2 linked regions of the Homo sapiens genome follow. The protein of the gene in region 2 interacts with the protein of the main gene of each other region in a pairwise test. Each region holds a gene or a part of one and is shown on either strand. Other genes may lie near its edges. The genes, in order: SLC20A1 and RAPGEF1.

Region 1 (3,816 bases), on a different chromosome or scaffold from region 2:
AAAAAAAAAAAAAGTTTTGTCTTTCTCACACACAAAGTTTAGTGGTAATTTCACTTACAAGTCTTACCTTAAAAAAAGACTTGCCTAGCAACACTGTTCACATGGTTTAAGAATGAGTAATATTAGTCATTATCTGACTGTCATATGCACGCCAGTAGGCTCCAAACCATTAGCCTGTACTAAAGACAGAAGTAAAGCACTGGCCAGGCACAGTGGCTCACACCTGTAATCCCAGCACTTTGGGAGGCTGAGACAGGTGGAGCACCTGAGGTCACGAGTTCAAGACCAGCCTGGCCAACATGGTGAAACCCCGTCTCCACTGAAAATTAAAAAAATCAGCTGGATGTGGTGGTGGGCTTCTATAATCCCAGCTACTTGGGAGGCTGAGGCAGGAGAATCACTTGAACCCAGGAGGTCGAGGTTGCAGTGAGCCAAGATCGTGCCACTGCACTCCAGCCAGCCTGGGTGACAAGAGCGAAACTCCGTCACAAAAACAAACGAAAAGAAGTAAAGCACTATACAATCCTATTTAAATCTAACAGATGTTATAATGATCTCTAGCTACTCAGGAGACTGAAGTGTGAGAACACCCTGAGCCCAGGAATACAAGGCCAGCCTGGGCAACACAGCAAGACCCCATCCCTGAAAAACAAAAAAGGTAAAAAAAAAAAAAAAAAACCCATAAAAGATATTATAATGATCTGTAGTTGATATCTAGGAATAGCTTAGTTACTTCTGCTTGTTTTGCTTTATTTTGCTTGTTATGTACGAAATCACAGATGCTCCTCAACTTACAATGAGGTTATGTACCTATAAACCCATCAAAAAGTCAAATAACTGAAGGTTGAACCATGAAGTCAGGGACTGTTTGTACTTATAAACTGGAAATTCTATCATACCCCAAAATGATTAATCTTTAAAAATCAGACACAAGGCCAGACGCGGCAGCTCACGCCTGTAATCCCAGCACTTTGGGAGGCTGAGGTCCGTGGATCACCTGAGGTTGGGAGTTCAAGACCAGACTGACCAACACGGTGAAACCACGTATCTACTAAAAATACAAAAATTAGCTGGGCGTGGTGATGCACATGTGTAATCCCAGCTACTCGGGAGGCTGAAGCAGGAGAATCGCTCAAACCCGGGAGGTAGTGGTTGCAGTCACCCAAGTTCGCACCACTGCACTCCAACCTGAGTGACAGGGCGAGACTCTGTCTCAAAAAAAAAAAAAAAAAAAAAATTAGAAACAAATTGAGGTCCCTTCAAAACTAAAACTTTTTTTGTTTTTGAACTTTTTTTTTTTTTTTTTGAGACAGCATCGCACTCTGTCGCCCAGGCTGGAGTACAGTGGCACGATCTTGGCTCACTGCAACCTCCGCCTACCAGGCTCAAGTGATTCTCCTGCCTCAGCCTCCGAAGTAGCTGGGATTACAGGCGCCTGCCACTGCACCTGGTTAGTTTTTCTAGTTTTTAGTAGAGATGAGGTTTCACCAACTTGGCCAGGCTGGTCTTGAACTCCTGACCTCATGATCCACCCACCTCGGCCTCCCAAAGTGCTGGGATTACAAGCATGAGCCACCGCGCCCGGCCCCAAACTACAATTCTATGGTGACTATGTATCTTTTCATTTTAAATTCTGCTTTCAATTTTGATCATGTGGTCACACAAACTAAAATATACATGAAATTACTGTCTATCACAATTTAAGTTGGTCTACATTCCAAGTCAAAAAGGAAAGAGACTGGTTTTTCTTACAAATGATCCATAAAGGACACAACGAAAATATCTAAGTTTCTGTTTTTAAAATGATTCTAATTTCACTCATCTCTGAGCTTTGCTTCTACCACATAAAGAATGAGTGTTAAGAGCATCATGGGAGACTTTTTAGTTTATCACAAAGAACTGTTTACAATGGAAATCTGGCATACAAACTTCTCTTCACCGGCACATAGCAGTTCAGTATAGTCTAAGTAAGAACAATATTTTCTTAAAGTTGTCTGTTTCGTTCCTGATTATTCCAAGAATTAATTAGCAAGATTAAAAATACTTAGCTCCATCTAACAAAATACACATATAATCCCTCAATCTAAAATAAGGTAAAAAATTAAAATATTGGCGAGGTGCGGTGATCATGTCTGTAATCCCAGCACTTTGGGAGGCTGAGGCAGGCGGACCACCTGAGGTCAGGAGTTGGAGACCAGCCTGACCAACATGGAGAAACCCCGTCTCTACTAAAAATACAAAATCAGCCGGGCTTGGTGGTGCACGCCTGTAATCCCAGTTACTTGGGAGGCTGAAGCAGGAGAATTGCTTGAACCCGGGAGGTAGAGGTTGTGGTGAGCCAAGATCATGCCATTGCACTCCAGCCTGGGCAACAAGAGCAAAACTGTCTCAAAAAAATAAATAAATAATAAAAATATTTAGCTAACTCTACTTTGGGTCAGCAACTTACTACTTCAGTGAGGTTTAAGAGCAAGTCACAACCCATTACTCAAAACTGAAATCATTTCAGTGGGCCACAACAAATGTTAAGAAAAAAAAAAAGAGAGAATTTGAAAATATGGGTGCATAGCACATAGTAAGCATTAAGTGGCTTCATGACACTATTCCAGTTATCTTTCTCTCTACATACATACATGTGTGTCCTGTATTTCATCCAGTGGGTCACAGTATAAAGAATAAAAGTCACTGCCTATGTAGTCACAGACCATCAGGCCAAATGAGTCTAGATACCAAAACTGTACTGTCCTGCCAGTTACAAGTTACCAATCTTTTGTTGTTGCTAAATTAAACTTGTAGCGCCATAATTTAATCCATGCCTTGCCTTAGTCCCAAACATGAAAGTCATCAACATTTCAACCTTTATATTCTCACAAATTATTTTTCCTCTTAGCTGCATGAATTTCTTCTTCCAAGTGCACTTAGAGCAGGTGGTAAACATCCCAACTCTTCTCATTCAAGCAGATTCATGGAAGTTTAGTACTTAGAAACAATAGTATCTCCATTTGGGAGAGAAAAATGAGAATATCCAGCAAACCAGTCCTAAATGACTGATTACTGAAGATCAGATATAACTAATGACTTCAGTAGTTGAGGTCAGTATTAATTCCAGCATTTTTAGCATAGACAGGAGAAAGGGAAGGAGATGATCATATTATCAGTGGATCCTGTGAAGACTAAAGAGGAAAGGTCTGTAGTGATTTAGAATCTGAGCAGGTCTCTTTGGTTGAAAAACTATCTAGGTTAACTCAGCGTACACTAGCCTGCAGCCTTCTGAAATGGGCGCAGGCCAGCCACCTTCTAGGAGATTTCAGCCCTGTAAAGCAAAAAGGGGTAAATTGGGCATTTAATGCAAGTTTTGTAAACAACTTTAAATTCACATTTAAATATTTTGATAGGTACTTACACGGTGCTCCAGTATACATGATGGAAAAGAGGTTTATTCCAACTGTGCAGGCATAGAAAACTGGCAAAGCTCGCAAACCATTAGGAACTGGATCTGCCTGTAAAACATCATTAAGATCAATATCTTAAAAGGTATAAAGGTTAACCCATTTCCACAGAATCTTTTAACAGGGTAGGTTTGGGAATTATAGTGCCAATAACTCTCTCCAGAGTAGTTTCCAAGGACAACAGAGTTTTTCCTGCATTTGCATCTGGAATTCTTCCTACGAAGGCTAATTCCAACTTCTACCTGTTTTTTTTTCTTTTTTCTTTTAATAACAAGACTAACTGTACCAGTGACTGATAACATCCTGAATAAAGATTGCAATACCCACATTCTAAGGTACCCAAAAGCCCTAATATAAACTTCAGCAC
Region 2 (3,816 bases):
GATCCCTTAATAATTCACAAACGGTGGGTTTTATTTATTTACTCATAAAACAGCCTTTGGGGCAAGACGGGTGACGAGTCAGAGGAACACCTGTCCCGGCGGCGAGGCGGCCGCGGGGTGGGGCAGGCGGTGGGTTGTCAGGCCTCTCCTCTTTCCAGAGCGTGATCTTATCCTGGCCATGGGGAACACGCTCAGCTGGCCTGAGGTAAGACCCAGCCTGGCACTCAAGGCAATCTCCAATCCGGGCTACTTTGGGAGACATTTTTCTGCAAGCTCACACATGACTCATCTCTACAGACCTCCTATAAGGTCTCTTGGCTACAAGGAATCCCATTCAAACCGCCTCTGCCAACAGCTGCTCTGGAGACCAGGAAACATTTGGGGTTGCTGTGGTTGATTTTTCTAAAAACACACTTAGCTGGCATTAGTGCTATTTCTTATCTCTCTACAGCACTGTTAATGTGACTAGTATTACGAGTATCAGACGCAGTCTAAAGACTGTAGTGAGCCTCCCTTAATTTCATTGGTAGATCTTTTTTTTCAAAGATCAGAAAAGAGATTGAGAAGCCTGAAGAATTAAGATGGAAAGCTGTGTCCCCAGCAACCAGGGAGGCTCTAACCAGTGCTCTATAAAGGCAAGAAAGGGGGCCGGTTCCCCATTCCACTTCTCCAGGGCATGACCTTGGGCAAACAACCAAATTTCCCTGGGCCTTAGCTGCCCTGAGGGGCAAAAGAGGGATACTCCGCCCTGCCCTCACCCCCTGGGCTGTTGTGAGGATGAAATGAAATGAGGTAGTCTATAAATGCATTCTGAAAACCACAGGAAATTGCAGAGATGTTCAAGATCGTTCTGATTCTACCCCTGGACTGTGGCCTCCAGGGACAGGTTCCTGCTGGCTCCCTGCCACGAGGCATCACTTGGTGTTTGCCAACAAGGAGGCACTCAGTAAGTGTTAAAACGGGTGAGTGAAAGGAGGCAGAGCAGGTGCCATCAAAATGTCTCATTGCTTGACTGAGTATACTTTGACGACAAAAATTCCTAACTATGGAGGAAAAAGGAAGTACAAATTTGACGAGTTTAAAATTGATCGAAATACAATGACTGCCAATCTAAGAGGACCTCTTTCTCAGGCCACAAAAATGAGTAGCCCTACATCATAGGGCCTGTACTCTTAGTATCTGTTCTGAGAAAATATATCATGACAAAAATGTGACCATGAAATGCAGTCATTATAAATTTCTTTTCGATTTACAATAAAAGCATCTTCACACATTTGAAACCGTAGCACACTGAGCGTGAGACACCTATTTATTCCATCTTCAGGCAGCGTGCTGGGCAAGCCTGTGGCCACTTTAGCAGGCCCAGTGAACTGCTCCAAGGTGACAGGAGCTACAGCGCTGGCAGGAGGGTCTGGTAAATGATGAAACTCCCAGCCAGCCTGTGGTTCGCTGGGAGCACAGAGAGGAAGGAAAGGGACTTTAAAAACATACATACAAAACTGCTTAACTTATGGCCAGCCCAGTTAGAAGGTATGGCCCAGGAGGCCGGGATCTTTGCTGTGTCCCAAGAACAAGAACAACTCCAGGCCCTCAGGAGGTTGCTCCGTGAGGCAGGCGATGAGTGAAGCCACTGAAGGAGGGAAGAAAGGAATGAGTGACTGAAACTGACACATGCAGTCCAAGGACCTTCTTCCCTTCAGCTGAGGAGGCCTTGGTCTGCTCCCACCCCAGGAGACTGGTCCCCTACCCCACTGCCTGTGCCCAGCTAAGTGGACCCATCCTCCGCCTCTCACCTTAAGTCCCATTTTGTCACAGGAGCACAGGAGTTTCCTGACCATCCCTCCCCACTGCAAGTCTGATCTCTTGCCACCTTCCTGCTCACCCTGTGACACACAGAGGATGCCTGTATTCAGGGCAGGCAGCACGACATCTGCTGAGTTCACCACTGAGTCCCCAGAGCCTTGTACGGAGCCTGATGGAGCCGGTGCTCAATCCCTGATGAATGAGGGATGGAGTAATGAGTCAATGAAGGGATGGGGCAAAGGTTTCAAAGTCCAGACAAAAACAAACAAACATGAATCATTTCTCCGAGGAGGGGATGCAAACGCAAATGTCAAAAGTCCAAGTGGGCCGTCGGAGGTGTGGCTGGCTGTGGGAGTGGTGAGGGGCTCTGTGGGAGTGTCCGCCACCTGACTCCTGCCCATAGCTGCCTTGTAGGCAGGAACAAGCGCTCAGAGTTACCAGAGATTCTCATTTTTCAAGGAAATCAGGAACCAGGCTTTTGAGATTTTTGAGTGACTTCCTGATTTTTCAATATTGACCATCAATTCTTTTGTTTTTTTCCTCAAGAACACGTGCGGATCCAACCCAACATATCTGTGGACTGAATCCAGCCCGCAGCTGCCAGTCTGTGCTTAAGCTCCAAAAACATGACGGTATCAACTCTCCTCGCTCAATGTCTTTATTGGAAGATATATGAGCAAAAAGAACCACAGTAACTGCTTGCACAACCAGAACCATGTTCATTTGTTCTCCAAAGCAGCCTCTAAACAGCTGCATACATCTCCCATCAGTCTTCCAGAACAAATCCCTCTGAGCTCCTAGGGAAGAGCCTCTTCTCCTCTGCAGGCCTGCCCACAAGCTCACCCTGGGAGCTCCCTAATCTGTCCAGCTCTCTTCTACTCCCTACCTCCTCGTCATCTCTAGAAGCACTGTAGAGTTTAGAAAGCCTCCCCTGCATCCCAGCTTGTTCCTGGCCCTCCAAATTCAACCTTTCTCCACCAGGCCTCACTTGACAGGCCCCCACCAGCCCAGCAAGTTGTCCCTGTGCCACCCTCTGGCCCAGACTGTCTTGATTCCCCATGGCACTTGGGACCCCCAAATGTGAGGCCTATGACCTTGTGTATTCTCTGAGGATATACATAGGTATGGATGAACCCCTCAAGGCCCTGCCCCAGCCAGGCACTGCTGCATGAGAAAGAAAATGTCCCAAAGAACAGCAATGACTCAAAAGATCTCCCCCAGGGGTTAAGGAGAGTCCTGCACACCAAGGAGGTATCAGGCAATGCAAGGGGGCGGGATGAGGAACAGGCCAGAGCTGCACACTATGCGGGATGTGAAGGGGTTTCCTGTTTACCCAAAAAACCCTGGATGCCTTAAGCACTGAGAACTAAAAACGCTGGTTCTTCTACTTTCAGGGAGAGGAGATTATGAACATATTTAAGCAACGTTTCTGTTGCTTTGAGATAACAAAACAGCAAAACTCCAATCACAACAATTGTTTGCCTGGTGTCAGGCTCTGCCACCACTTCACCTAAGGGCCTCTCCTCTGAATCAAATACTCCTCTGGAGACTGAATAGTGGGAAGTCCATTAAAAAAACTCCAACAGAAATCTAACAAAATGTCGTCTAAATGCAAAGGGAAGTTCACTGAGAATAGCCAGCAGAGACCACCAGGAAAGGTCATCCTCACTCCAGGCGCGCCCCAGTCTTCCTTGGCAGTTGTAATCTTTCACTATGATTCCTATGAACTGCAGCAAAAGACCTTCTGCAAGGAGGCTGGACTTCCAGCCAGCTCCACATCTGCAATCCCCAATCTGCAGGCGAGGTCCTGACCCTGGTCTTGCCAATCTCAGAACTCTTACTTTTTCTGCTTCTCACAAAATGCATCTTCCTCCCACACTTTCCGCAGCTCCTGGTCAGCCCCTTCCCCTCTCTCCTCTTTCTCCCTGTCTCCACCAGGTATATATCTCAGCCCTCTCTTCAGAGCCTAGCACAAACACTGTCCCCTCCAGTGTCTTCCTCATTCCCGCACTC

The links.
Region 1: the proteins of RAPGEF1 (region 2) and SLC20A1 interact in a two-hybrid assay, tested with the Homo sapiens proteins (one large-scale study listed by BioGRID and IntAct).

What each region holds. Positions count from the first base shown.
Region 1 is NC_000002.12:112,652,386-112,656,201, reverse strand, and holds part of SLC20A1 (sodium-dependent phosphate transporter 1), read right to left. Parts: intron 3,501-3,816; coding exon 3,404-3,500; intron 1-3,403. UniProt on the Homo sapiens protein: Sodium-phosphate symporter which preferentially transports the monovalent form of phosphate with a stoichiometry of two sodium ions per phosphate ion. May play a role in extracellular matrix and cartilage calcification as well as in vascular calcification.
Region 2 is NC_000009.12:131,733,571-131,737,386, forward strand, and holds part of RAPGEF1 (rap guanine nucleotide exchange factor 1), read right to left. Parts: intron 1-3,816. UniProt on the Homo sapiens protein: Guanine nucleotide-releasing protein that binds to SH3 domain of CRK and GRB2/ASH. Transduces signals from CRK to activate RAS. Involved in cell branching and adhesion mediated by BCAR1-CRK-RAPGEF1 signaling and activation of RAP1.